Linked DNA regions of Homo sapiens: all the other regions are linked to region 4. The links come from fine-mapping of genetic effects on gene expression. A gene starts in region 4. Each other region holds a variant in brackets. All regions are shown on one strand. Distances are from middle to middle.

Region 1 (5,112 bases), 160 kb after region 4:
GATGTGTTTTGCCTTGTGGACTTCTTTAAAAAATGTAATGCAACTTCTTAGTCTTTTTCCCTCATAGTTTCTGGATTTTTGAGTTACAAATAGAATCTGCTCTTCCAAGGCTATGAAGAAATGTGTCTATTTTTTTTCTAGTACTTTTATGGTTTCCCTTTTACATTTATGTCTTTGGTCCACTTAGTGTTTACTGATAAGGATCAGAATTTGTCTTTTGATGCTTATCCATTTGTTATAGCACCATTACTAAAAACTTTGTCCTTGACTCACTGATTTGAGATACTACCTTATCATATAATAAATTGACGTTTCTACTTGAATCTATTTTTTATTTGGTTTCATTCACATGTCTGCTTATTCCAGTGCCAATAATTTACTGTTTTAGTTGTTAGAGCTAGGCTGTCTAATACATAGGTTATTGAGCACTTGAAATGTGACTGGTATGAGATGAGATGTGCTGTAATTGTAAACTATACACTGGATTTTAAAGATGTAGTTTAAATAAAGAATTTTAAATATATTAATAATAACTTATTTTGATTACATGTTGAAATAACGTTTTGATATATTGGCTTAAATAAAATATATTTTAAATTAATTCTACCTTTTAAAAAATTTTTATATTGTAGCTACTAAATGTTTTAAAATTATATAGGTGGCTTTCGTTAATATTTTTATTAGATAGCACTGCTTTTGAGTATGATTAATACCTAGTAGAATTATTCCTACATCAGTGTTCTTTAAAAAAAAAAAAGTTTTCCTGGTAATTTACTCTTTTTTATTTTTTCCGTATACACTTAGAATTAGCTTGTATATTTCTACAACAAATCTATTGATATTTTTATTGGAATTGTGTATAATGTGTAAATTAACTTATAGTTTATATTTTCATTATGTTGCACCTTCCTATCCAACAACATGATATGTCTTTCTATTTCTTCAGTCACGCTTAGGTGTATTTTAGGAGTATTTTCAGGTTTTGCTTATATAGGTTTGGCACATTTTTCAAAGTTTATTTCATAATATTTTATCTTTCTGTGGCTATTGTAAATGTATATTATTTTCCATTTATCTTCTCACTTGCTGTATCTACGTATGATTGATACTAATTTTTATGAATTAATTATTTTCCTTGCTATCTTAATTCATTCTCAATTATCTTGCTTTTGTAGTGTTTTTCTCCATTTTATTCTTTTGTGTTTTCCAATAACAAAATTTTCTGCAAATAGGAAGAGTTTTCCCACCCCCTTTAAGTGTTATATCTCTAATTATTTTCTCTTGTCAGTACAAAATGAAATAGCAGTGGTGAGTGTGACTATCCTTTTCTTGTTTAAACTTCAGCAAGAATGTCTCCATTAGGTTGAATGCCAGTTTGTGGGCTGATATTTCTCTCGTCTCTCTGACACATACACACAACGCACACACGCGCGCGCGTGCACACACACACATACACACATGCACTGTTAAGAAAGTATTCATATATACTTATTTTGATGAATGTTTAAAAAAATCTAGAATGGATGTTTAATGTTGTCATGTCTTTTCTGATCCAAGGAATGACTATATAATTTTTTTCTGTCAATTAGGTGAATTAGATTAATAGATTTGATGGTTTTACTTGTGATGTACTATAATTTTAAAGTAGTTCTTTTTTTAGTTTTAATTTTTTTACAGCAGCATCAATTTATACTTTGATTTGCAAATGTAAATTAAGATACAGTAAAGAGTAAAATACAAAGAAATGAATGCATGCTGTGCATAGATTATTGATGAGTATTCGCAAGCCATTCTCAATCCCAAGCTCCCTTGCTGCTTCTACACTGAGTTTGGAGGTAATTGCTCACCACACACCCTCATTTTTAGTTACGAGAGGCCAAGTGACTCAATTATGGCCCATATGACAAACAGCAGACTTCCAGGGAAACTTAGAAGAATATTTGCTTTCCTAACAAGAAGAGGAATACCTGGCATAGATTTCCTTCCTCTTCCGTCTTCCCCCTTCTTCCTATTAAATGCCAACAGTGACTGGCATTCAACTCCCATCTTGGCATTCCTGAAGATGTTCAGCTACTACACCTCTTTTCTTCTTGTTATGTTAAACCATTTCTTGATTTTGCTTTTTAACATCTCACTTAGGATATTTGCACTGATATTCACAAGTGAGATTTTTCTGTAGATGCTTTTGAATTTTTTTCATGTTTTAGTATGAATGCTTTCATTGCTTTTTAATTTTTTTAAAAAATTTATTGTCCTTACTGTTTTCTGGAATAGTTAAAATTGCATTGGAATAAGCTATTATTTGACAGTCGTTTCCATCCTACTAAGATTGAGAAGGAACTTCCCTTACATAAAGGTTTTTAAAGGCTCCAATTCTTTTCTGGATCTCACCCTCTCTTAATGTCTCATAGACTTTGAGCCATGGTTATACATACTGTCTCCTCATGATTTTCAGTGTTTCTCTTTATGCTGGCCCTTTCCTTCAGAATGTAAACATATG[C/A]CTACTTATCAAATTTAAAACTAAACAAAACTCCTACCAAACTCATTGACCCAAGGAAAACAAACCATCGTAAAGTGCAGCACTTCCTCTGATTATTTCAAAATCTTTCTTTTCTTCCCTGATCAGACTTTTGGGAGAGTTTTCAACACTGACTGTCCATTTTCTCCCTTCATTATCACTCTTCAGCACACTCTACTCTGCCTTCCCCCTTAGGTTACTAATAACTGATGGGTCTGCGAATCTAATAAGCCCCTTCCTGCAACATTCACTACCTTTCCTCCTTTCCTTTGGCATCTGTGGCCACTCCTGATTGTTGTCCCACCACTCTGATATCCATTCACTCAGAGCCAACTTGTTTTTAAGAAACTTCAAACTTAAAATATCTGAAAGTGAGTTAATTACGTTTCTCCACCCGACAACACAGAAAATACTGTTTTGCTGGCAATATTCTTTGCTTCAGTAAATCATGCTTCCATTCACCAACTTTTCCAAACCAGTAATATGGGAGTCATCCCTAGTATCACTCTGTTCCTTATATTCGCTGTCACCAAGGACTGTTGACTCTAAATCTGAACTCCTTCCCAATCCATCTAATTTTCTTTAATCCAAACCATCCATTCCCTATCTCTTTCATTATTACTGCAAGTCTCTCACATGTCCTCTCCAACTCTAATTTTGCTTCCCCTTCATCTGTTCCTTGCATTGCTGCTGGAGTGATCTTTCAAAAACACAAACTTGCAAATGACTCCCTGCATAAAAGTACTCAGTGATTTTCCATTTCCTTCAGAATAAAGTCCAGACTCCTTAGCTGCATTATAAGGGCCTGTGTGGTCTGGCCTCACTCATATCTAACAGTTCTCCTTACAAATTACCCCCCTTAGAAATGAAACTATTTCCACATTTCAAAAGTGGTGAGGTATCTCTCTCACTTAACCACCATATGCTGCTTATGCTGGCCTACCTTTTGGAAATCGTCCCTTTCCCTCTCCATTTTACCTGATAAATTTTTGATGATGTTTCAATTTAAAGCGTAGCGGATCATCTTTGACAACTAAGCTAACTTCTCTTGTTATGGGTTTCTTTAGAGTCTAGTATTTCCTTGTCTTAAGACTGATCACACTTAATTGTGGTTATATAGTGTCTGTCTTTTTTGTTGGAATGAAGACTGTGAGGAGTTGAGAACTATCAGTTCCCTGAGCCTAACATTTAGATACTGAATAACAGCTGATTACATGAATGAATGAAGAATATTTGTTAGAAGACAGAATTTTTTTAGAATTTTAAATTGCAGAGATCAAGTGAGAAGGTTCCAGTTGTATTAGATCTGAGAAATGTGATTAAAGCAGTGTTTTTGCAAGATTAATTTGACATTTTTCTGTTGAAACAGATTAGGGACAGATTAGATGGAGGTTTGTAGTGATGAGAACATAGACAAGTGGCTTCATATTAGAGTCACCTGGTGATATTAAAAAAAATACCTGTTTCCCAAGCTGCCCCAGACTGATTAAATTCACTGATTGCAAGAAAACCTAGGATTTGTACTTTTTTAAGTCAAACGCTCACACCCATCCAGGATTTTCTGAAGTTAAAATGGTAACAGTATAATTGGTATGGGCAAAATATATTTTTCCTAAGAATGATAGAATGTGAATGTGGGCTTTTCAAGTCTAGTGGACCAGAGAGCCCCATTGCAGTGTTAAAGAAATGGCGAAGTAGAAGAGGGGAGTTGTTTTAAAGAAAGAGAGAGTGACCAGGCCAAAAGTGGCTCAGTACTTTGGGAGGCTGGGGGGACAGATCACCTGAGCCCAGGAGTTTGAGACCAGCCTGGGCAACATGGCAAAACCCTGTCTCTACCAAAAATTCAAAAAATTAGCCAGGCATGGTGGCATGCATCTGTGGTCACAGCTACTCAGGAGTTTGAGGCGTGAGAATCTCTTGAGCCCAGGAGGTGGAGGTTGCAGTGAGTCAGGATCATGCACTCCAGACTGGGTGACAGAGGGAAACCCCATCTCACTATCTCCAAAAAAAAAAAAAAAAAAAAAAAGGAGGAGTAAGTTTTAGGCATGTGGGACACATATGTGTATATATACACATATATACACATACAATATATACACATATATGTGTGTATATATACACATACAATATATACACATATATGTGTGTATATATACACACATTTACACATACAATATATACACATATATACATATATAATATATAATATTATGTGTATATATAATATTATGTAAACATATATCACATATTAAATATGTATATAGGTATATATGTATATATATGTTTAAATACCTGACCATCTTCTACTAAGTTATGATTCAAATGTTCCGTTATCTAGGAGGCTTCCTCTCCTCTGCAGGGCCCATTGTCCTAGCTACACCTCAATAACTGCTTTCTTTTCTTTTTTTTTTTTGTCTTTTCCTCAACTCAATTCTAAGCTCTCTAAGGACAAGTATGTTGCCTTACTCATACTTGTGAACTCAGTGCTCAGGACACTGGCATGCATAGAATAAACACCCTCTGAATGTTTGCAGAATGAGTCAGTGATTAGATATGAGACTGGATGAATTCTCCTGAAGAGTAAATGCTAAGGA
Region 2 (5,112 bases), 210 kb before region 4:
GTAAGTTTCCTGAAATTACATACCTTCTAGGAGATGCTTCTATGTAATTTTCTTTGTTGTTTGTTTCCTTTTGTAAGACAAGTCAAAGGAAATACTGAGTACATACTAATCACTGCATTCATTCTTTGAAAAGAAATATACTTGGGCTTCTTGACAAATAGTTTTCTTCATAACAATTAGACCAGGAACACCAAAAGTGAGTACTGTGTTTCAAATGTATTAAAAATGATAAAAACTTCATGTAATGTCAAATTTTTATTTATCAAAATTATTACTGTATTAGTAATTCTCAAAGATTTTTTTCCATAATTTTCATATTATTAAAATAGACATTGAGAGAAACAACTGGCAGGTTAAAAATACTGTGTTAGCTGAAATCAGAATATTCTTTCATTCAATTTCCTTTTCAATTTGGTAGGTATTGTTTAGGTACCTCCTATGTCCTAGACACCAGTATGAAAAAAAACATAGACTCTCCAGTAACTAGCTCCCTGGATAATAGAGCACTCACATGTCCTAAATATTTTTAATAAACTATATTACTATGTAGCCTGTCTGGAACAGGGTTAATTTTCACAAACGTTGCTCTCAGAGTATTTGAGAAGGTAAACCCACCTGAAAGAGAAATTGACACCTAAGCCAAACCTTAAAAACAACAATAAAAAAAACATATATATATTAGACAGTACTTCACCTTTTTAAATACCAACACTGAAAATTAAAAGAGTAATGATTACTTCAGCAATTTATTGTGAAGATTAGAGTCAATGGTGATAACTTCTTGTGATGAATGCCTTTTCCTTACAAGGCACTCTCTGGGGAACTTAATATTTATATCTCCAATCCTAAAAATCTTCGACTTTAGGTATGATTGTTCATTTTCTATACAAAGGAACTGACTCATAAGATTATAGTCTGTGTTATTATGACTAAACAAAGGTTATATTGGATATTTGATAAACCAATTGAATAGAGTGGTTAAAACTGACCAAATATAGATGAAAACGTTAAGTGTTTATAGTTTAGTTATAAGAAACTTATCCAAAATCATATGCTCAGGACACTTACATTAGCCCACAGATAGGCAAAATAATCTACCACAAAGCCTGTTATAAGATAAAGTACTGAATATTTCATGTAATTTATCGCATACAGTACTGAAAGTTAAAAATAAAGTAGGTGAATGAGTATTTGAAGTAAGTTTTCTACTAAATGTGCATCACTTTTACACCATTTTAAAGTCAAAAAATCCTAAGTTGAATCATTGTAAGTCAGGGACTATAAGTCACTGTTTTTTAGTACATGGTCAGTTTTGATAAATGTTCTGCAAGTGCATGAAAATGATGCATTCGTTCTATGTTAGGCTCAGAAAAGTATAGATTTCTTAAATCAATCCAATAAACTTTATACAAATAAACCTTACAAATTTTGAGTAAATTTATGTTGTCATGTGTATAAATGTTTATGAATATTACATCTTTTAAGAGTTTTTTATTATTATTTTTATCTTCCAAAACACGTCCTTGTCAATATTATAAAACTTTTTTTTACATCTTTATTTTTAAAACTCAAAATAAGTTATAATTACTCTGGGATCAATATTTAATTATATTCACAACCATATTTTTACACATTGTTTCTTTTATCTTTCTTTCCACATTTGTTTCCTTCCTTCTAAAGAATAACTCTTAGTAGATGCAGATGAGAAATCTAAGGTCAGAGTAATTGTCATTTGGTTTTCCAGTAATTTGTTTTCCCTTTATCTTGAAGTTCTGATTCTCATTATCCTTAGTATTGCACAATATTACCACAACCCTGTGTCTAGGTGAAGACCTTTCATCTTTCCTTTCTTCTGGAAAATTTTCCACCATAACTGCTTTAAGGCTCCTCCTGTGCCAATCTCTGTCTCTCTACTTTAGGAGCTCCCCTTACATGTGTATTGGAGTCTTAGAAGCTTCTGAACTTCTCTATTAAACTTTTCATTTATTCGTATCTCTTTATTGTGCTCTGGTTGAATACTCAGATCATATTTTTACTTTTTATTTCTTTAGTTCTGCAATTTATGCCTCTATCCAGCCCAAAACTGACCTTTTCTATTGAGATTGTCATTATAGTGTAAATTTACAGTCAACTATTTTTTATATTAAACTCAC[C/T]GTTGATTTTTTTATTTTATCTCCTTTTAGGATATTATTTTATACATATTAATTTTAAAGGCCTGATTATAATATTATTTGTGTTTCATTAGGATAAAGTCAGGTACCATCAGGTAAGTCTTTAAATTATCACTAATAGATTATCTTTCCTAACATAGTTTCTACCTTTTTGTTTCTCATTTACGTTGAGTGAATTTTATTCTCTTTCGGGGCACTCCCCCTATGGCTTTGTATCAGGTGTGTGTGGCCTTCAATCAACAATACTCCTATCCCTCTCTCCCACTGCAGAACCAAGTTTCTTAAAGTCCAGGGCTCCAGTCCAAGGTGATTAGAGGCATCACAGAACCAAATCACTGTACCATAGACACATGCCCACAATACCTGCTGTACAGCTTTCTCTACTTTTTTCTGCAGCTTTCTATAAGCCTCAGCTCTGTACAGCAGTTGCACCTATTTTTTATTAAACTTTCTATGAGGTGGAGCTGAGTCCAGTCCTCTACCATGCAAGATGTTTTTGGCACTTAAGTTTATCTTAGACCACTCCCCAGCAGAAGTTAGCAGAGAATAACCTAGTCCCCATGTTTTTATACCATTTCTGGCCCAAAAGGTATTTATATTTCTTTTTCAGTTCACCTCTTAATTTTTTTTCTACTTTCATTAAATTTTACTTATCATCATTATTTGAAGATAAATGGGTGGCTTAAATGTTAACTTACAGCATCATGCCTTTTACAAGTGATTCATGTTGATACAATAATATTGCTTTATACTACCCTATATTATGAGTCATCAAATATTTTTATGAAAGTATATACATTTTTAAGTTGTTGAAGCTTAAACCAACGAATCCTTTAAAACTGTAAATTGGCAACGAAATAGTATAAATTTACATTTATTTTTAAAAACTAATGTAGAAAAAAGTAACCGCAAATAATTTTAACCATGCGATTTCGTTAAATTTCAAAGTTATTGCCCCCAAATCACGGTAGCTTATTTTTAAGTCCTAGATATTAAGATACAGTTTTAAAACAAACTAAAATATTGTAATAAAAATCATCTAGCAATTCATCTGGCCCCACAGTTCTATTATAAATCATTGTGCCAGTAAGGAATATTTTAATAGATTTCTAAAGATTTTTGGAGAAGAATGTCAGATATTTAGTGAATTCTATCAAGACATTATTCTTTTCTATTAATCACTGCATTAAGAGTAAAAGGAGAGACACAAATCAAATCTTCAAAGATGTTACTTGTATTTGCATTCCAGACAGACACATTTTACCAGGGTAAAAAATATTTATCTTATTAGTGCTTAATGCATATTTTTCATCTATATCTTACTTCTCTCAGAAATAATTCACCTTTGTGTTTGAGGGTTGGGTATTGGTTAAAGACATTCACAAATAATTGAATAGTACTATTTTAAATAGAAGTAGTATAGAGAAATCCCATTTAAAGTGATAAAACTTTGGGATAATAGGGCAAGTGTGATATATCATTAATCTAACAAATATAGTTTAATCTATATCCTATTTATAAATGACCTGCAAAAAGTTATTAGCTATATATATTAGTAATTTTTCATTATCATGATAATTTATCTTAGTTATAGATTACAAAATGAACTGATAGATTTTATTGATCAGTTTGTCAAACTGTATCATAAATGTGCTAGGTTTATTCCTAAATTTATTTGTATACCAGCTTTCACAAAATCATACTTAGGCATTCCAAAATAAAATAAAACTGCAGATAAACACTTAACGCTTCAAGGCTCCTCGTCACATAGACCCCCCCTTTTTATTTATTTATTTTTTGAGATGGAGTCTCGCTCTGTCGCCAGGCTGGTGTGTAGTGGCGCAATCTCGGCTCATTGCAACCTCTGCCTCCAGGTTCAAGTGATTCTCCTGCCTCAGCCTCTTGAGTAGCTGGGACTAAAGGTGCACACCACCACAGCTGGCTAATTTTTTTTATTTTTAGTAGAGATGGGGTTTTACCATGTTGGCCAAGATGGTCTTGATTTGACCTTGTGATCCGCCTGCCTCGGCCTCCCAAAATGCTAGGATTAAAGGCATGACCCACCACGCCTGGCCCATATAGACCCCTTCTAAGGCCTTGTATTTAAATTTTTCAGTAGTGCTGTAATGTAATTTCTAAAGAAGGAACCCAACATTTTGTTATCTGAAGCCCCATAAAACTTAAGATTCATTCCTGGCTACAGAAGTTAAAAAAGAAAAGACAAAAAAAAAAAAAAAAAAACAACTAAGCCGTATGTGTTGGTCTTACCCAACCTATTTCAATGTAGTAGCTTCATATCTAACAGAAAAACAAGGACTTGTGAGGTATGGTGACCAAGTATATTTGGCTAGCCTAGAAGATGCAACAGATACTGCTGTGGCCTTACAGCCAGAAAACCAGGGTTTACATTGAGCGCCTCTGTCTTTGACTAGTAACATTACCTGGGGCAAGTAAGAGTTTGTGAAATAATGAAAATTAAACCACTAGCTTTGTATTCCAGATTTGCCTCTCACTACATGTGAGGTTGTGGAAGTTAATTAATTTCCTGGAGTTTCCTGTTACTCATATGTAAAATGGAAATAATAACATTATTTGGAGAGTTATTCTGAGGATTAATCAAGCTCTAAATAAAGTACTCAACATTGTGCAGGACACTGGGAGTTTATTTAACATTAGCTGTGATTTTGTAATCACTTTGATTCTTAGTTTCCTTATGTCCAAAATGGGAAAAAAATTACCTGGTTTGCATGCCCTCAAGCGTTGTTTATCAGCATTTTTGAGTGAGATATTACAAAAATGCACTGAAGCACTATGCAAAGTACAATATAACTGCATTTTCTCCTTGCCTGATACTTTTCTTTGCACTAAGGTCTAATCACCTCCAAAACCATGTGACAAAAATTAATGAAGATTGGACAATAAGTCCAAGGATGCCAATGTA
Region 3 (5,112 bases), 220 kb before region 4:
CCAGAGAACTCTGTCTCACTAAAAAAATGTTCAGCAAATAAATTTAAAAAAAACAAGTTTAGTACTAATTTATATGAATTACAAATGCCTATCCTGCATTTGAGTTAAAAAAGAGATAGGCTAACAACAGTAATCTACCAAAATTGGCAATACATAGTAAGTTACAAATAGGGTTGGTTCCATTTTAGGCCTTTTGTGAAAATGCAATCAAGTGGCAAACAGATTTTTCCTAGTTTACCAGGGTACACAATTAAGTTCATATTTTAAAAATTGACTCAGATATTCACTGATGTGTATAACTGAAAACAACATACAATGCTTATACATATATTGTTAATAGATTATGTTTTTTCTAATTAATAAAGCTGTGGTAAATACCATTAAAATGATATTCTAAATCTTTCCAGAGAAATAATATATAGGACATTTTACTTTCCAGAAAAATAAATTCATAAAATACATGTAATCTCTTGGAATTCATAGTAGTGGAACATCAGTACAGAAGAATAATTATTTCTTAACAATCAGGTTATTTATGTTTCATGCCCACACTAAAGGGTCTTCCTAAAATGTGATATTTTTGCTTGATGATTCAGTCAAATAAGATTATATTAATGATAGCTTATACATCAATATTTATGTTAATAAATATATCAACATATTTATATCAATGATACAAATAATTGATAATTGATAATTTTATATTATCTTGGGCTTAGCATATTGTTGTTTGAGTAATATTGAAATTTATACATTTATTAACATATATTCACTGGTGCCAAAAAACATAAGAAACTTCACAAATTTTAGTAACAAATTTGATTAAATTTATCCTCTGTGATTATTGGGTATGATTAATTTATTTGTTACACATAGGGCAGTAGCCACAACAAATTTAAATGTTAAGCATAGAAACAGATATTCCAAATGGATACATTTTGTAATCCATGATTTTTTTGATAATATACATAGAGAAAATAAAAATCAATTGAGTAATATTATTCAGTTACCATCCAAATTCTTTATTTTGTATAAAATGTTTTAAGCAATATCTATTCCCTAATTGTAATAAATTTTATTTCTTTATGATAATGAAATATGTGTCCCGTATAGAGTTCTGTTTATTTTCAATATATATTCCCATTTCCATGTATAAATTTTCATGGGAATAATATGATCATGTGATTTTAAAAATGTATATTTAAATACATTTCTAGTACATGCTGACAAAATTTTAATCAAAAGTAAGACTTAAGAAATTTTAAACTGAAAATATGTAAGACAACATATCTATGTAGACAACACAATGAATAGTCCAATATTCCATGGATCTAGGTTTTCCACATCACTAATATCCAGGATTTTCAGTTATATCTCCATTAAAAGAAATATTCACAGGGCTAAAATCATTTTTCATATGATTGGTTCTTATAATCAAAAAATAATTTGCAGAGATTTCTCTTAAATTCACAGAACTAGAGAGAAAATTTTTTAAATAAATATTGCTTCAAGCCAACTGCAAATTTTAAAGTGAATAATGTAATCAAAACTTGAACATTTGGAAAAAGAACATTTAAAATACCATCTGTGAGCCTGAAGTTCCTATATGATTATGAACCAACAATATTCATAATTGTTTTGCTCCATCATTTCTGACACTATAAACATGAAATAAATGTAGGCATTACCTTAAACCACCAACATATTCTTGTTTTTCAAATATAGTGATGTCAGAGTACCCCAATCGAGCCAAAAAGGAAGCACAACTTATACTTGCAGGCCCAGCACCAAAAAGAGCAATCTTTGCAGAATAGGCTTCAGACATTTTTTCTGGGGGAGGCAGCGAAGGATTTCTGATCTGTGGGATACTCATTGCTTTGAATACCTACGGGGAAATCAATTGTCATGGTTAAAATTTTGAAACTAGCTTACATCCTCAAACATATTTTTAATGTTTCAAACGAATTCTTGTTTTAAATAGCAATGAGCAGTACATTTTCAGTATTAATATGGTATACTTACAACTTTTATTGTGTCAAGTAGATGAGGAGTTATGGCTAACTTTCAGTCTTTCCTTTCTAGAGTCATGCCTCCTCTAGGAAACACTCATGGGGCACATTCCCTACTCCCACCTAGAGGGTACATTAAGTGCCTCTCCTCTAAGCTCCTACAGCATAATCTGTATGTCTCTAACATAACCATCTGTGGTATGTGTTATGATGTCAGTCAGTAGAATGAATGTTAGTTCCCTGAATCAGAAAACATGTCACATGTAAACACATTACCCTTGCATTATAGGAGTTAGCATTGCGATGGCACACGGTAGACATTTAATAAATAATTTCTTGAATTCTGCTTTTGATTATGACAGATTAACTTTGGGAGAATAATGATTTAAAAAAATAGTTGAAACATTCAAGAACTACTGACGCAGGCATCTTGGAAGGGCTAACATCTCAGAGGAAAGTAAGAACAAAGTTAAGTGACCAGAAGTCACTTTT[C/A]CCCTGAGGGATTTGCGACTTCTTACCAAAGGGAGGAAGGCTAAGCATCTTGAAGAGAACCACAGCTCAGAAAAGAGATGTTGGCAGTCTTTTGAAACCAGAGAGACACAGAGTTTTGGAAATGTAGGAGGCCATTAACCTAGAGCAAAATAAAGTACAGAAGAGTGAGATTAATTCTTAAAGTGCATATGACAAAAACCTAAAGATCTAAACAGAAAACCCTATGGTCCAGGAAAAACAAAAACTGGAGTGACTAAATAAGAAAGAGCCCTAGTACACACCTCAGTGTACGGCTGAAGCTTCTGGAGGGCTACACTCTACAAGTAGGGCAAATGAGGGGTAAATAGCCAACCTAGCCTTGAGTCAACTCAGCCCTGGATTTAAATGACAGTGATCAGTCCTCACTGTTATCTATGTACCAAACGATAGAATGCACTTTCTGTGAATAATAAGTCAACCACAGTTTCTACAAATTTTTTATAAAATGCCTGGGTTTTTATTTTTAAAAGTCCAAGCCTGCAAGAAAAATAAACCTAAAAAAATTGAAAGAGATACATACATAATCTCGTAAGTGTGGTTATCAAAAATAAATTTTAGAATAACTATGATTGATATGTTCAAAAATATGTAAGAAGAATGTAAACTTCATTAAAAGCTGGAATTTGTTAAAAATAAAAAATTAAATTTACTAAGTACATTTAGTAAAACATATTTAGCAAAAAAAATAACTAGCTAATGTGGAAGGAGGGAGTGGGATTTTAAAAACACATTATTAAAATGTATTAATTAAAATTATTATAAATAGGTGGTAGAGGGTAGGAAACAAAGAAACAAATGGTAAGATGGTAAATATAAATGTCAACATGAGAAATTATATTAAATGTAAATGGACTAAAATTCCAATTAAAAGACAAAAGTTATGGAAGATAAATGCCTTAAATATAAGAGCACAGATAGATAAGTGTAAAGTTAAAGACTAGAAAAAGTTATACAAAGCAAACACTAACCAAAAGAAAGCTGGTACATATATATATTATATATATATATGAAATATATATATACCAATATTAGAAATATTACACTTTAAGGCAAGATGCATTACTAAACTTAAAGAACATTTCATAGCAAGGAAATGGTCAATCTTTCAACAAGATTTTAAAATACAATTTTAAATATATAAAGCAAAATTGATAGAACTAAAAGTAAAATAAATAAATCACTATAATCTCATTATTCTACTCTCATGAAAACTTGACTACCAATAGAAGTGGCCAATGAATAAATCCATATTATAGGTAAGTTATTTATGCTATCCAATGGATTGGCTCACACAGTTGCTTGCATTTAATAGGTCAAAGCAGTAACTTTCTCTCCTGGAAACCCAGACAGAGATCAATAGATATAAATGTAAGTTTTCTTAAGAATGAGGAATAAAGGTGACAGGACTTTACATTTTCTTAACCTCATCCCACATATACCACAAACTATTGTAAATAAAGTCAAAACACATAAGGAACATCCAAACAATCTTATTTTAAAAAATTGAAGAGGGTATTATCAACAAGTATTATAGGGTCAATTTCTAAGCATGAGATGAAAGGTCCTCATAAATGGTCTCATAATATTTTGTCATTTTCATTCTAATACTTTGTCACTTTTACTGGTTTACTTATCTGTTTCCTCTCTTAGACCATAAAATATTTAAGGGAAGACAACATCTTTGAATTCACCTTTTAATATTCAGTGTTTTTATACATAAGGGGGAATATATGTTAACTAATGAGTTTAAATTGGTAATAAAATAATTTCTTATTCCCAGCTACAATTTGTATAATTTACAAATTATTAATATGTGTTCCTGCTCTTCCCTGTGCTATCCAAACAGTACAGATTTTCTTAAATATTGTTTTTGAATCAACATATACTGTTATCTTTTATTCCTTTCTAAGCAATGTGAACAAGGAACTAAATTCTGGTAGTTTTATATGATCATTAATTAAAATGTAGTTAAAATATATTTTATATTTCCCCAAAGAAAGGTTTCACATACTTTTCATAAATATATATTTTATTAGATCATTAATTAAAATATAGTTAAAATATATTTTTTATATTTCCCCAAAGAAAGATTTCACATACTTTTCATAAAGAGATACTTAAAACATATGTTTAACGTGATCAAGGATCTCTGATCAGGGAACAGAGATATAGCTAATTTTATTTAGGGATTAAATAAATGCTAATTTCTTTCATATTTAGTTGAATAATTTTAGCTTTGTGAACTAATAATTAAATATTTAACTTTCCCATGTTAAAATCTGCTAACATTTACAAATAACATTGTGTTTTAACAAATCTTAAATGAAGACATTTATGATGTATTTAAAAGTATCATTTATTGCTGACATCTTTTACAATGGAAGCAGATTTAAATGTACTAAGGCTACAGCATTCATTATAATATGAAGTTACAGTGTCATAACCAAATGGAATATAATTTGTGCTCAGCATTCACTCATAAGCAAGAAATAGGTTAGTTCTGAAACGCCTAGCATATCTGAACAAATTCTAGCTAATGGCATGCAAATAATAAAGTAGCAATTACCAAATA
Region 4 (5,112 bases):
GCTGTTAAGTTACTGCTGAGGCCTGGGAAAGTGACCAATGTCCAATACTAACCTTCTTTGAAACCATCCCAGGAGAGTTTGTATTAAAGTCATCGTTGACAAAATTCAGACTGTATCCAAACAGTACACTCACAAAGCAAAATAACTTCTAAAAGCATATAACTACTATTAACGGACTTTAAAATGCTAATCATTTCATTGGAAGTGATTTTCCTGAGAATAAGATATATTTTTCTGTTATCTTTATTTTTTAACATTTTTGTCCTTTTTCCCAACAAGATGCTGTCAACTTGTGACATTTGTTTATTATCCTTAGCAGATTTTCCATGTGCAATTCAGAGAGGCTAACTTGCCCAAACACACAGCTTAAAGTTAGACCTCAATCAGAGGCAGTTGGTTTCAGAAGCCAGGCTCTGAACCACATTAATATATCTGAAAAAAAACATGATTTCTCATGCAACTTCTATGATTACAACAACAACAACAACAATTCTGAGTAATGAGCTAGGTCCTATTACCAAGTAACACATCCTTTCCTTGCCTATCTCCCAGCCCAGGGATATTCCAGCTATGGAGTTTGGTGATCTGATTGTTTTCCATGTTCCTAACCGTCAAATCCTGATGTGATATTGGATTCAGACTAGAAATTATGAAGCAGGCACACAAAGCACCTTTATATATACCTCAATAACTTTTCCCCCAGAAACAAAGATATTTCTTGGCTGTTTCACTGAAACCTGAGGTTCTGTAGTTAGCTCATAGGGAAAAGTCAGTCACTATTAGAGTAGGTTGTTATCATCACCTTCTGTTCTTTTAACAATTGTCAAGTACTTTTCACATTTATCAATGTGTTCTTATCACATTCATTAACTGCTTCATACCAATATTTTTAAAATATTACTTGCTTATCCATGTATTTGAAGCTAAAACAATGATCACAATCAGATCTCTAGACAATGGTTGTAATGAATTTGTTCAAGAAAAGCATTCAAATTTGATGGAAAACTGAGCCTTTATAATTCATTCTAATTCTTCAACACAAAAATGAACTTTGGTAAATCAATAGGATCAACTGAGGCATTTATGCTTGAATGTGCTCCCCTAAGCTTAATGTATTTTTCCTCACTGCATTATATTTTAATGATTAATTTCATGCTCTTTCATGGTATTCTAGCTCATGAATCACGGGTATTACTTTGAGGGAAAAGTAAGGTGCTGTGAGTGATGAAAGATGTTACTGATTAAAGTGTTGCACATATGAACTACATAAGAGCTGAAGGTGTTTGAACACCAGCAATCTAGATTAAAAGTAATATTAGGCAAACTGGCCATATAGACTAAGGTTGAATTGAGTGGAGGGAGTGGGAAGGATGGGCTTCTTAAATGTTCTTAGTTGAAACAATATATGAAATCAAGCTTGGCATTCAATGTTTCACTGGCATCTTTCTCCTCAGTAGAATGTAAGAACTGATTTCGAAGACAACTGCAGAGAAAGAAATCAGTTAAGCAGATAACACACCATTCTGAAATTAAAGAGCCAAAAGCCACCCATCCTAAGTCAACTCCGATATCTTAAATCAATACTGCCTTAATACTGTCAGAAGCTTGTTTTTCGACTTAGTAAATAAAATTTTTTAAAAAGTTAAGTCAAAGTCACAAGGACCAAAAAGGAATAGACTACCCTAAATGAAATATAGAAAAAGACAAGTATCTATTATCCTGCACACAGATGAACAACTATTTGTTAAATATATCATATTGCTCAATATCAAAAAGTCAACTCTCCAAAACAGAAACCAAAAGTAAACTAACCAGAGATGTCCACATAATACACTTTGGCTCTTGTTACTAAAATGATTTTTCAAACCAAGTTATGGAGCCTGGAGAAAACAGGACTACTTCCTCCCAGAATATAAAGTTTCTTCAATTACGGAGGCAAAATGTGGCAAAAGCAGCTATTTTGCAAACAGGTGGTTTGCAAAACTTTTACTTAAGCCGCCAAAAGGACTGACGAAAGGAAAATTTTGTTATTTCTAAAGAAAACACACACACACATAATTTTCTACCAGAGTAGAAGACTCAAATAAAGAAAAGCCCCAAACAAAACAGAAAACTAAAAATCAGTTTGTCTTAGCTCAAAAGTGCTGACCTAGGTTTAGTATGTGTAAAATCACTGTTGATAATTAAATCCTTTTCATCGCATATATTAAGATACTAGAGAGAAAGGAAATGCCATGTCGTTTCAGGTAGGACCTTATTTACATAAAAAAAGATTTTTTTTAACAGAAACGGAGTGCAAGAGGGAATCAAAAACCGTTGAGAGGAGAGAAAAATACAGTTAGTTTTTCTGAGGGCACTGCATTTTTCATGTTCTGAATACTTCGTTCCATTCTCTCCATGTTAAATTATTTCATAAACAATACTATGACTAGAGGCGACTGCTACAGCTGACACACAGATGTTTTATTTCTATGCTTCACCTTTGCAAATAGCAGGATTCAGCTATTGGAAATGGGGGCAGTGGAGGTGTCCAGAAACGACATACAGGAGGTGAAGGGGTAGAACGTGTGGGAAATGGGCACTCCTACCCCCTAGAGTCCACCTCTCTGGAACTCCAGTGCTTCTTCAGTCACTGACATTCAGAGGAGGACAAGACAGGCTTCCTGAAATCTCTTCCGAAGTAAACAGGTCCCGACGCAAAGGGCAACCCCTCCAGTAGCGGAAAGTCCTCCCCTGAGCTCCCCGCCTGCCCACGCGGGCCTGTGGCTCCGCGCTCCTCCGCTCCCCCGCAGAGCTCCCACGGGGGAAACTTTCCCGCGTCTCTCACTCTCCGGGGTGCGGGGGCCGCGGGGGCCTCCCCGGCACCTACCCGCAGAGCACTCCCCACCACCCCGCCACCACCGACGAGCCGGCGCGAAGTCCGTACCTCGATGTCCGCCGAGTCCTTACTGAGCACAGGGGCCATGGCAGTGCCTACAGTCTCGAGTCTGCCAGTGACAAACCCTCCTTGCGTCCTCAAGCTCCAGCCAGAGAGCCAAGTGACAGCAGCCGGAGCGCGAGTCGAAAACAGGCAGACTAGGGCCGGCGGCGCGGGGGCGGAGCGGGCGCGGGGCGGCAACGCCCCCGGGGCGGGGCTGCGCTCTCGGTCCTGCGGCTCCCGCGCCAGGCACGGCAGCCGCAGCCCGGCCTTCCCAGTTCAGCCCGCTCCGCGCCCCAGCCTGCAAGCAGAAGGGAGGGAGGGAGTAGAGCACCCGCTCTGGGGACTGGCCTTTAATCTCTAAACTGCTAAAAACAGAGCTAGGCAGGCGGGGCCAGATAGGAGGGATCCCCAGGCAAAGGTAAAAGCAGTCCGCGCTCCAAGCAACAACTTGCACTTTTTCTTTTCTTCCACAGAAACCCCGCGAGATGTAGATACATTGTTTGAGGGGCAACTGCATTTTCAGGAACTCCTCAAGGATGAAATAGTAGATGTTCCTCCATCCATCCACCAAGTAGGTGGGCGGGGTTTGAGCTGCAGTGGAGGATACCAAAGCACCGGTCTTCTGAGAGTTCACAGCCCCAGCGGGGAGGGGAGGGAGGCGAGCAAAAACATCCACAGCCCGCAGCAGCATACAGGAAGTGCTGCAGGTGGTACATAATCAAGGTTGTCTTTTTGCAGGAAAGTCTCATTTTAATGGTTATTTTTTTAAATATTTTTTATTCTAAAACGTGAAACTCTTTTGAAAAGTTGCTCTTCGTTTTTGCTCTAGAGCTTGCTGAGGAGAAGGGAGAGATTTCCTGTAGAGTTGGTCCCAATCCAGAAAACATTCACCTCGTTTTTTGAGGATATGTGTACTCCAGACCTCTCTCCTTTTCTCCCCGCCCCCCCCCCACCCCTGTTAGATGCATCCCACCTCTCTTCTACCATAACACTTTCTACTTCCGTTAGGACATTTGCGGCACTCCTTCATGCACTTGGCTAGGTAGTGACACCTTGGAGTCAAGTATTTCTCCCTTATTATTTTTTCATTAGTCCATTCATCGTTTTATTCAACGAATATGTTTATTGAGCATTTTCAATATGCCAGACACAGACACTGTGCTAGGTTCTCCGGATATAGTCTTCAAGAATACACATCACTGTCATGGAGATTATACTCAAAATAAGCAAGTAAGAAAATGTGATGCCTGCTTGTAAGATAAAAGAAAAATAGGACAGAATAACTAGGGTATGGGTACCTTGCGTGGTTGAGAAGGCTTCTCTGAACAAACCATCAGATTACCTTCCAGAACCTGGAAATTACTAAAAGACAGATACATTTTTCTTGAATCAAATATTAACAGACACTAGAAAGTTAAATGGAAACCTTAGAATCATCTTTGACTCCTTTATCCTTATTGCCTCATTTAATCTATGCCCAAACTCTCAGAAGTCAACCTCCTAAATAGATTTTGAATCATTCATTTCTCCATTTTGCTGCATCCACCATGGTCCAAGCTACTGGTATTCTAGCTTCTATTCTTACCTCATATCCATACCAGATTGAGCTTTAGAAAGTATTAACTGGCTCATGCCATACAACGATACATCCACACACCCAGGTACCCATGGTATAAATCCTTCAATGGTCCATTGCAGTCAGAATATAATACAAACTCCCTAGTAACCGCTGAATAACCTGCTCTACTCCGCTTCTCCGCCACTCTTGCCCTGACTCATTATGTTCCAACCACAAGGTAATCTTCTCATCCTCCATCCACTTCTCTACCTTTGCACATTGCCCTCCACTTGGAGCTCTTCTTCCCCTTCTACTCATCATTTAGGTCTCACTGAAGCCTTTATGATCTAACCCCATCACCAACAAAATTACACCCACTCTGTCTTTTTCATTATATTTCGTCTTCATAGACTTTTCAAATGTTGTTTAAATATTTATTTGAATGTGATTCATTTAATATATGTCTTCTATTTAGAGAGGAAGCTCCAGGAAGAGGGGGCCCATGTGTACTTTTATTGTTTACTGGATACTCAGTTCCTAGCTCAGGACTGAAGCATAAGAGACCAAGAACACTTGGTGATTGAATGAACAGAGTACATTCGTTTATACACTGGGCAGTTCATTTTAGAAACTT
Region 5 (5,112 bases), 320 kb before region 4:
GACTTTGGATAAAATATTACAATTTTCCCCAAAGACAATGACTCTGGTCAGGCCAAACCAAGGTACAACCTTCATTCAGGTGGTTCTTCTTGGGGTGTATAAAGTGATAGGGTGTCTATCAAAGTATTTTATTTTAACATCATAAAATTACTGTTTAAGAGAAGACAGTCAATCTTTCTGCCTGTGTAGATACAAATCATATAAGATATGTGACGATTCATGCCATTTCTTTGAAAAACATCTTCCAATGTTTGTTAAGGACTTGCTTACCTTGAAGCAATTTTTCATGATGTAGTTTAGACATATATATTACAGTGAAAATTCCTTACGATGATACTTTATTGGAAGAATGAACAAACAGATGATTCTGGCAAACTGTTATACCCGGCCTTTTTTTTTTTAATTTTACATTTGGGTCTTAGGCAAGGTTGGGTGTGAGAGCTGAACAATGTGCTGCTGAGCTTGATTTTGATATTAATTTATCATAAATAAAATAGCATACTCACTATTAAGCATAAAAGACAATATGTTATACCTGCTTTACTGCCTTTGGCTACAAGTGGCAAAAAGTCTTTGGATGTATAAAACCCCTGGTCCTGCGTCAGGCCTTGGAAGATGGCATCTTTATTGGGTTCTGGCAAACCTAAGTAATCAAATTTATAAAATATCATTAGCAGGAGGAGGGGCTTTTCCTATTAGATATTAAAACAAAAAAGAAAACTTTAATCTTTGAAATAATGTCATTCTTAGAGGAAAACATCTGTAAGCAAATCAATATAAAATGTACATAATACAGTCTAACGGATCTCAGAGTATATTATGTATATCTTTAATATATAACCAAGTACACATCGTAAATCACACATTAATGTATACCTATAAATATATGGAAACATATGTATATACACACATAAACATATATAACATTACAGGGAAAATCAGGTTATATTCTTGCCTCATATCATAAATAAGTCAGTTTCAGCTACATTAAAGTACTAAATATAAAAAAAGTTAAAAATGGGTACATATTTATCTAATTCCTGAATAAGTAAAATCATTTCTTTTTTAATGAAAGAAAAAAATTAAAGGAAAAAACAATGTATTTTGCCACAATAATTCAACCACTGCTAAATTTAAAAAATATAAATGAATTAAAACGAAAATTATTAACCAAGAAGATGTTTTAATAATTAAATGTCTTTACTGTATAAATTCTCCAAATCAGTAAGGAACATATTAGCTTTTCAATGGAAACATAAAGAATAATAAAAATTGGGAGAAGAAAAAATATAAATCACCTATAAGCACTAAAAATATTAACTCCATTAAGTCATTAAACTGCAAATTAAAAGAATAAAATTGTAACTTCTCTATAAAAAGAAAAATATTTAAGAAAATTAAACTATACACCAAGGGTAGACATGGAACTTGTCATACTCTTTCAGTGGAAATATACATTGGTGTTCAATATCTAGAAAATAGTCTTAAATCTATCTTAAGAAAATACTGACACATGCAAATAAAGGTTTAATGCACAAAAATGATTAATACAGAAAGAGGAAAATAAGATGAGAGAGTACCAGAATGTCAGGTAAATGAAGAAATTAGTTTTACCGTATAAAAGAAAAAGACAACAGAACGAATATTTGAGAAATATGGTATAAGATTGTAATCAAAATACAGTCTTAAATGAACCTGCAGGATTCAAAACTCTGTATAGTATAATTCAAATTTTGTAAAAAAATGTATTAATATAAACCATGTAATCTAAACAGAGATCATTTAGAGTGGTGGTATTAAGGATATTCCAATTTTTATTATTTCCTTATTTTCCAAATTTTCTACATTGTACATATATCAACTATAAATTAGTAAATTCTTACCAAAACTTTGAAAGGAAAATAAATGGCAGACTAAATTTTTTCCAAAGTGTAAATGAAGAAAATCTTATAGCAGTCACCCCATCCAAGGCAAGTAGAGAAATAATTCATCTCAATTCCATAAATGCAGGGGAAAACATGTAGTTTTATTTTATTACTAAGACTCATTC[T/C]ACCAATGGGTCATTCTAGAGAGGCAGGAGTTTATTTTACAATGAAATGAAGGGCAATGGACATTTGCTGGTAGATACAGAGTAATAAGCATAGCCGAAGGATGACTTTTGTCATATGAGATAAGGTGGGTGCCATATCTGATCTGAAAGCTGAAGGTTTCTGTGGGTTGCCTGTAATCAGCAATAAACCACCATTGTCTCTTCAGATTAAACCAAACATTTTTCTTCCCCATCCAGCATCCCCTGAATCTCCTTTTCCATAGCATTTGCTCATAAATGATTTTAAAAGAACTTTTGCTTTCAAAATGATTTCCATTATGTAGTAGCATAGTTAGGGGAGCCACCTCACCTGCCTTTGCCTCAGCTTCTCTGTAAAGGAAATGGGGATAAGACTGTTTCCCCCTTTTATGACATAAAAAGGTATATTAGTAACAGAAACAATTATATAAATGGGTGGCCGTTTATGTGATTCTTTTAGAAAACCTGGGTTGGAGGGATGGGGTTGGTAAAAATAGCTGAATATGTTCTTGAAGGCTCTCTAATGACAAAATGATTTCTTCTGAAACCTGTTAAAAGAAGACTGAAGTTAGGTCTACATTTGACTATTCAAACCAACATATACATATGCTACATATAATTAGCTTTTCTTTCCAGTTTATTTAGCCACACCCCAGGTCACACATAGGGCCTCAAGGTCCACGGAGCCCTCCTCCTCTACCTGGGTGACAGGTCATCCCTTCTGGCCAGGGACAGTGCATCTGAAGGTCTCCATGTGGATACTTTGATAGTCTATGCTAATCATAGTGCTGTGGGATGATCAGAAGCAGGGATTTTGTCACTAGACAGACTTTGGTATGAGTCCTTCCTCTCTCATTTACCAGTTCTGTGGTATTGTATAAGTTCCTGTGAATCCTGTGAAGGTTAGGGTTAGATGTCAATTTGGCTAGGCTATAACACCCGTTAGTCAATCAAACACTAAGGTAGGTATTGCTGGGAAAGCCTTTTGTTGATGTGATTAATATCTACAACCACTTGACTTTAAGGAGATTGCCTCAATAATGTGGGTGGGCCCTATCCAATCAATTAATCAAAAGGCCTTAAGAACAAAATTGTGGTTTCCCTGAGGAAGGAGAAATTCTGTCTTAAGTCTGCACAATCAGCTCCTACTTGGGAGTTCCAGTCTCCTGTCCTGCGCTAAGGAGTTGGACTTACCAGCTCCCACAATTAAATAGCCCAATTCCCTAAAATAAGTCATCTCTATCTACCCATCTGTCCATCCTACTAATTATGTTTTTCTGGAGAACCCTGAAATTGATTTTCCACTACTTCATTTCTAAAAACAGAGATAAAAATTCTACTTCTCTCATGGATGTGAGATTTTTTAAAAATGTTAAAAAAATTACAAAATTATGAAAATATTAAAAATATATCCATATGGATAAACCATATATATAATTGAGAGCTGGCACATCGTGAATACTCATTAAACATTAGCTATTAATATTAAGATAGGTTTATTCTATAATTTATCAATTATTTCATACTTCATATTGCATGGCAAGGAAAGAATAAAAGCTTAAATAAAAATAAAGTATTAAACCTTAGCATATGTAAATCAAGTTCCACAAAGAAAGAAAAATGAGGCAACCTTAAGTGAAATATGAAAGAAAATGAAACTTGCAAATAGTCATCTATCAAAGGAAGACTTCTCTGAGAGTAGGTGGCATATTAATAAATAAGGTATGTGTCTATACTAGGATGATTTCAAAATGACACTGAAATGACTTTTTAATTCACCTTTCAGTGTGAAAAAGAGAGTTTATGAATAAAGATGAATTGACAAAGATTTGACAAACAAAACAGTTCAGCGTAGTAGATATGTATAGTCTTTGTCTTTCAAGGAGGCCGGATAGTTTGTTTCTTTAGAATAGTTATTGAAGTTTTTGGTGTTTTAGCATGCATTTATACAAAGGAACACCTCCTTAAGAATTATTTTTAAATGGTGATTTTCACGTTCTCTGAAAAAGAAGGGAGGGAGGGAGGGAAGGAGGGAGGGAGGGAGGAACGAAGGAAGGAAGGAAGGATCCTGCTTATGTTACAGAAAATTTAAATTAACTTTTATTGACTACAGACACTACTCTAAATGCCTGGCCCCCAGGTGATTATTATATAACTCATTTTAATTCTCAAAATAATTGTATGAGGCAACTGATGTTATTATCCACATTTTAAATATGAGGAAATTGAGGCATATAGGGATTAAGTAACTCGCTGAAGGATCACAGAACATGTAAGAAGCAGCGCCAATTTCTAACGTGGACACTGGTTGTAGAGTCTATGTTATGAGTTCAAAATGGCTGCCTTTTTCATGTTTAAGGTTATAACTAGGCCAGGTTATAATGTGAAGCTACATAACCAGTCCTATCTAAAGTAATCATTCAACATGTATGTATTAAGTTTCTCTACAAGGCTGCAGATATGCGTACCTCACAGGATGTGTCTGCAGCCAGGTTCCAATCTAGTGACAGAGAAAGGACTGGCTGCTTCTCTTGTCAGCATTTTTGTTTTGTGATTATTTTCTCCAGTACAATCCCTTTCTGAAATGTTTTCCTTCTTAAGTGAATTCCTCTTGGGTATATCCTGGTTATTTTTCACTATTTGATATTCTTTGAAATGTGTATCCTTGCATTGTTGCCAAAGCACCTCCCTCTGGAACAACTACAGAATAAATAACAGCAGTATATATAGTAAATTCTTTCCTTGTGCTCACATAAAGTTTTGCACAACTTCAGTTAACATGAACAAGATATTAGATGTTCTGTTACATATTAAAATCTAGGAAGTAATAAGAGAAAAAAAAAAGCTTTTAAGGCTTTGCTTTCATAGCTATGGTAGGGCATGTTTAAGAATTACTCAGATTCTATAATGTTTGCTTGTGTTACTTCACCAAGCCACTTGTTTAGTGTTAACTGAATGATGCAAGCATTTGTGTGATGCTTCCTGTCCTTGAAAGGATTCATCTGAATGACAGCTAAGCCATCATGAGAAAGACAGTCATCTTT

The links.
Region 1: its variant is fine-mapped to the expression of DPYD in whole blood (TOPMed, PIP above 0.99).
Region 2: its variant is fine-mapped to the expression of DPYD in blood mononuclear cells (TOPMed, PIP above 0.99).
Region 3: its variant is fine-mapped to the expression of DPYD in whole blood (TOPMed, PIP above 0.99).
Region 5: its variant is fine-mapped to the expression of DPYD in whole blood (TOPMed, PIP above 0.99).

What each region holds. Positions count from the first base shown.
Region 1 is chr1:98,081,904-98,087,015 of GRCh38, forward strand. All of the region lies in intron 1 of LOC124900404 (a long non-coding RNA gene), which reads left to right. Among named protein-coding and RNA genes, the nearest start is that of MIR137HG, 35 kb to the left of the region's middle. RefSeq lists an enhancer at 4,979-5,112. The variant C/A (reference allele first, on the strand shown) is at 2,501.
Region 2 is chr1:97,710,263-97,715,374 of GRCh38, forward strand. The region is part of intron 5 of DPYD (dihydropyrimidine dehydrogenase); the gene reads right to left. Among named protein-coding and RNA genes, the nearest start is that of DPYD-AS2, 84 kb to the right of the region's middle. The variant C/T (reference allele first, on the strand shown) is at 2,154.
Region 3 is chr1:97,697,663-97,702,774 of GRCh38, forward strand. DPYD (dihydropyrimidine dehydrogenase) reads right to left here. Exons shown (of 23, transcript NM_000110.4): 6 at 1,689-1,885. Among named protein-coding and RNA genes, the nearest start is that of DPYD-AS2, 97 kb to the right of the region's middle. The variant C/A (reference allele first, on the strand shown) is at 2,502.
Region 4 is chr1:97,917,958-97,923,069 of GRCh38, forward strand. DPYD (dihydropyrimidine dehydrogenase) reads right to left here and starts at 3,077. Exons shown (of 23, transcript NM_000110.4): 1 at 2,927-3,077. The coding sequence starts at 2,965. RefSeq lists a silencer at 2,883-3,282.
Region 5 is chr1:97,594,524-97,599,635 of GRCh38, forward strand. It overlaps DPYD (dihydropyrimidine dehydrogenase), which reads right to left. Exons shown (of 23, transcript NM_000110.4): 9 at 536-643. Among named protein-coding and RNA genes, the nearest start is that of DPYD-AS2, 200 kb to the right of the region's middle. The variant T/C (reference allele first, on the strand shown) is at 2,051.